Regions from separate parts of the Homo sapiens genome. Here region 2 is linked to region 1. Evidence: fine-mapped expression QTL. A gene starts in region 1. The other region holds a variant in brackets. All regions are shown on one strand. Distances are between the middles of the regions.

Region 1 (2,919 bases):
GCTTCTTTTGTTTAGCATAATGTCCTCAGGGTTCCTCCATGTTGCAGTATGTGTCAGAATTTCCTTCATTTTTAAAACTGAATAATGTTCCATGGAATGTATACATCACATTTTCTTCATCCATTGATAGGCACTTGGGCTGCATCCACATTTTGGCTATTGTGAATAATGCTGCTATGAACATGGGTGTGCAAGTATCCGTTTGAGTCTCAGCTTTCAATTCTTTGGGGTATATTCCCAGAAGCAGAATTGCTGGCTTGTGTCATAATTCTATTTTTAATTTTTAGAGGAACCATTATACTTTTTTTTTTCCATAGCACCTGCACAATTTTAACTTTACAGGACTGGATATTTTTAAATGTCCTTTCCATGTCTAGAGTTCTAGGACCCAGTACTTGTTTTTCAAATAACCTCTTTAAGTCATTTCCTCGTTAGCTGGAAATCCTGCTCACCATGGAAAAACACTGGGATGTCTTTTACTTCAGAAAGCCTTCATTTGGGTTTAGTCCCCTCCCAGCCCCTTATTTACAAGTGGCAAGCCCTAATCATGTTTTTAATTTATTTCTTGTTTTCCTATAAGACATCAGCTCCTGGAAGCAAAGATTATGTATTATTCTTCAATATCTCCACGGTGCTTGACACAGAATAATCAAACAGCAAATGTCTGATCAATGCATAGGTGGGAACAAAACAGGGTCAACTATTTCCAGATGAAGAATTGAAAAAATGATTAAACATAGTAAAATTAGAGAACATTTTTTCTCCTAATGCAAAATATTTTCCTGGAGAGGCTGGAATTCAAATAATCAAAATGATAAGCATGATAATAAAAATGCCTAACTAGGGCTATCCCAACCATCAGCCAGGGCGGAATCTTTCCACCTGGGCCCTGGTGGGACACCTAACCTAACATTCTTGCTCCTGCTGGCTGGCATTCCCAGAGGATGGGCTATACATGGTGTTTGATGCCCATCAACATGGAAGTGCAGAAGAGACATTCAATGCCCGTCCATGGAAGAGCGAAGAGGGGCATTCTCCAAGCACCCCCATTCGCTAATACAGTGAACTCTTTGATGCTGGAAGAGATCTTGAAGTTCAACGGTTCGGGAGGCGCTAGTATACTGGACGATGTGGCTGAGGTTCAGAGAAGAGAAAAGGCGAATCCTAAGTTATGTAGCAAGAAGGCAACCTACTCCCTAGATCTGGAGATACAGACAAACGCTCTTTGCAGGGATAGAAACTATTTTTAAGCCACCTTGCTAAGCGCTGGAGGGCAGGGTTGTAATTGGATACAGGGAAATGACAACGCTTCAGTAAGTCGCCTCCATCCCACGCTAAATAAGAGGCACTGGACGCCTGGGCGACAGAGCGAGACTCCTTCTCAAAAGAAAAAAAAAAAAAAGAGGCACTGGGCTGTAGGAGAGTGGTGAAATTTCTGGACCAAGACAAGGCGGCCACAACCCTCCTGGGGCAACAACCCTCCCGCCGGGCTGGTTTTTTGGAACCTCTGCAAACACTTTCTCCTGGGTCAGTTTCCCGCCAAACCGGGATGGAGGATGTCCAGAGGTCCCGGGAGTGGAAGCCGCTGTCCCTGTGTCTACTGGGAAGTGGGCGAGGCGGGATGCTGCTGGCCAGGCTGCTCGGGGCGAGGACCCGAGAACACGCACTTGCTCGCTGGGCCTCGGAGGGGTGGGAGGGGCGGGGCGGTGCGCAGCCTCCCCGGGACAGGTCTGCGGTCCGGGACCAACTAGGCTGCACAGGCACGCTGGGCGCATGTCCGCCTCGCCGGGGCTGCCAGGTGAGCCGCGCGTGATCGGGGAGCGGGGCCCACCGGCCGGAGGGAGCGGGTATAGGGGACCCTGCCCTGACCCGGAGGGAGACGGGAGGTGCCCGAGGAGCAGGGGAAAGAGCACCCCCGCACGTCCCTGCAGCAGGCAGGGTCGGACGGAGCAGCGCCCCCTTCTTCTCTGGAGGCAGCAGGAGCACCCCAGATCCTGTGGCGGGAGGCGAAGTTTCATTTTAGGGAACAAAAAGCCCAGGGCGAGAAGACATTTGACTTGGAGAGAACTGGGGGAGTTAGGGATCTCTGATTTCATCTCACACTTTTTTTCACACCCAAGTGAGGGGTCTGGGAGGTGGGCAGGGAGAGTGCTTAGGAGACAAACAGAGTTAATCCCTCACCCCATTGATCACCGCCCTGCTGAATGTTCTCAAAGCTCACCCTGCATCGTGGTGGACTGTGTGGTGTTGGAAACGACCAAAGACTCTGCCCCACCCCCACCCCCAACAAGCGAGGAAAATGTTTCCCCTGAAATGTCTTTCTTCTCTGTCTTGTTTTTTGTTTCGTTGCTATGGATTCGTGAACTAGCTTGTAATGGTCTCTAAACCTCTAACTTGTATGTATAATATTTGCGTGTCCATGCATGCATTTTTCTGAAGCGAGCTCTCAGAAGTTGTATTTGTTTCTCCCGAAGAATAAATAGGCAAAACCATATCTTTGGGCTGCATCAACATGACCTCTTAATAGTCTTCAGGGAAACTGAGTTGCAGATTCTTATTTAACGAATTGGGGATTGGCCGGGTGTGTGGCTCACGTCTGTAATCCCAGCACTTTGGGAGGCTGAGGCAGGTGGATCACCTGAGGTCAGTAGTTCGAGACCAGCCTGGCCAACAGGCTGGTGAAACCCTGTCTCTATACAAATACAAAAAATTAGCCAGACGTGGTGGAACGGGCCTGTAATCCCAGCCACTCCGAGGCTGAGGCAGGAGGATCCCTTGAACCCAGGAGGTGGAGGTTGAAGTGCGCCAAGATCATGGCCACTGCACTCCAGTCTGGGCGACAGAGCAAGATTTCGTCTCCAAAACAACAACAACAATAATAACACAAACAAACAAAAAACAATAAAGTGGGGATTGAGG
Region 2 (2,919 bases), 26 kb before region 1:
AAGGGGTAAAAAGCTTGAGTAAGACAAATCTCAAATTGTTGAGAGCAATATAGCAAGTCATTTATATTAATGGCTTAGCATCTATATGTAGTATATTGTTACAATTTGGCTATGCTAATAGCTGTAACAATATATTACATACGATATAAGAATATCAGTCTTGGATGAGATGATTTATTCCCTTTAGAAGTTTTTCTTCTCTGGGCTGGGTGCAGTGGCCCACACATGTAAATCCTAGCACTTCGGGAGGCCGAGGTGGGCAGATACCTGAGGTCGGGAGTTCGAGACCAGCCTGGACAACAAAAAACCCTGTCTCTACTAAAACTACAAAATTTAGCCGGGTGCGTTGGTGTGTGCCTGTAATCCCAGCTACTCGGGAGGCTAAGGCAGGAGAATCACTTGAACCCAGGAGGTGGAGGTTGCGGTGAGCCACTGCCCTCCAGCCTGTGGCAACAGAGCAAGCAAAACACACATCTGCAGTACCGCTACTAAGGGAAGATTCATGTTCAACCCTACCGTGGATTGGTTTTTTTCACAGACTGAACCCTTCATTCCTTACCTCCACTCTGAATCTCTGAATTGAGTGACACATGTACGTAAACTTCACCTGGAAAGCAGATAACTTAGTTTTGATGGTATACGAAAACTCCATTCGTGTATAGCTCTGCCTCTCTTTATGTTATTATTGTCACAGATTACGTCTTTATACATTGTGTCCCCATCAACACAGACATAGTATGTACAGCTGTCTTTTAAATCAGATAGGCAAAAAAGAATAACAAACAAAAATTCTGTGTTTATACTATCTTTTGTATTTACCTATGTAAATACATGAGTATTAACTGGCTAGTTTTATTTCCACTTGAATCAGAATAATAGGTCTGATAATTCTAAATGATACGATTGATGTTTACCTTAACCTTATCAGTGTTCCTTTTTCTCCATTGTATATATGTGAATAATTCACTGATAAGCAGTGAATGTCCTGTATTAAAGAGCCGTTCATTGACTCGTGCTACAAGCACCCATTGAGCACTGGACATTGGACTCTGTGAAGCAAGTGATAAACTGTAGACTGCCATCAGAGAATTAACCTTGGAGGGGAGGAAGCTGACATGCATCACCAGGTAATTTTATGATAATTTTATAA[A/G]TGCAACATTTACGACTATGTACCACTCACCATGGGAACACATCAGATCCAGCCCTGAGTAATCAGGAAGGCTTCCAAGAGAGGGGCCAGAAAAGGAAGGAAAGTGTAAAGGAAGATAAAATTGAAAAGATCAGCAGTAATTTTAAAAGATCATCTTGTCCACAGTGTGAAAACTGGTGTCTACAAAGGAAAATGTAGAAAAGGTAAAAAGCCAGGTGGGAGGTTATTAGCATTCTGTTCATGATGGGGGAGAACCAGGGTAGTGGTAGAGAAGTAAGCAAATTCTTGAGTCATGCAAAAGTGAGAAGTGATCGAATGTAGTGATTGTCTGGAGGTGGAAGGTAGGAGGTGGATAAAAAAGGAATGCCTGTTAGATGTCTGTCTTGGGCAAGACAAGAGATGCATATCTTTATTTAGAGAAATAATGCAGAAGAAGGAGCAAGCTGAGAAGTTGAGAGTTGGGGGAAGGGGGATGCTAGACAGGAGGTGACTTTGCCTGGGAAAGAACCAGGCAGAGCTATCCAGTGGGCTGTCATTCAGTTGCCTTTTTTTGCATTTAAAAGATACGTATTGATCAATTTCTATGTGCCAGACACACTACTAGGTGCTGAGAACACAATGCGCAGCAACATAGCCATTGTTCTTTCCCTTAGGGAATCTGATGGCAAAGGACAATAACATCTAAAAATTTTTTTCAAAAGACAAACATAGTCATTATAATAAAGAACATAAGTGAAATTACCATGTTAAATCCCAGGAGCTTTGGGTGCTCATGGGAGGTGTGCTGTAACATATTGAGTGTTCAGAAAAGGCTTTCTAGAGAAAGAAATGTGTAAATTTAAACCTAAATAACATGTAGGACCTAGGAAGAATGTGTGATGGCATAGACAGGGGACCAGAGGAGCAGAAAGGAAGCCAGACGATGGACATCTTTCAGACAGGAAAGTACTACAGCCTGGAGATGCAAAAGATTAGATGGAATTCTCTTGTAATGGGCAGAAAATTAACATCACTGGAATACAGATTGTGAGTAGGCAAGAGACAAGAGATAACATTTAATAAAGTAATTAGGGGGTCAGGAAAGGCACAAAGCGTCTTATAAACCAGACTAAGAACTTGTGCTTTACTTGAAATAGGGTCACCAACCACTCTAGTTTTCCTGGGTCTGAGAACTTTCCCAAGACACAGGATTTTCAGTGCCAAACTGAAATAGTCCTGGACTATTCAGAACAACTGGTCACCCTAGAGAGCCATTTGATGGTTTTATGTAGAGGTTTTCATGTATAATGAGGTTGTAGATTGGGGAGACCACTGTGGCTATGATATGGAGAAAGAAGGAGACTGGTGAAGATGAAATATGATGATGGCCAAGCTGGGGCAGGGGGAGGTTCAGTAGAGACAGAGAAAAACTGGGTGGGTTTGTTAAATTTTAAGAGATGTTATAATTAAACAGATGTGTAACAATTTAATGAATGAATGGGTTTAATGTGTGAGAAAGGCATGCGGGTGGTGGTGGTGCCATTTCCTAATTCCAGAGGGAGAGAAGTGGCTTTATATGATAATATGAAAAGTTCTATTTCAGACATGTTGAGTTTGTAAGGTTGTCAGATAAAATAATAGGACATCCAGCTAAATTGGAATCTCAGGCAAGGAATGAGAACATTTTTAGTTTAAGGATGTCCTGAAGAGGAATACTTATGGAATGTACACACAAAAAGAAATTCAGTTTTAAATGAGTGTTCTGGTAACCTTATGAGTTTGGGATGCCT

The links.
Region 2: its variant is fine-mapped to the expression of OXGR1 in lung (TOPMed, PIP above 0.99).

Annotation. Positions count from the first base shown.
Region 1 is chr13:96,993,177-96,996,095 of GRCh38, reverse strand. OXGR1 (oxoglutarate receptor 1) reads left to right here and starts at 1,620. Exons shown (of 4, transcript NM_001346194.2): 1 at 1,620-1,798.
Region 2 is chr13:97,019,583-97,022,501 of GRCh38, reverse strand. No RefSeq gene overlaps it. Among named protein-coding and RNA genes, the nearest start is that of OXGR1, 27 kb to the right of the region's middle. The variant A/G (reference allele first, on the strand shown) is at 1,151.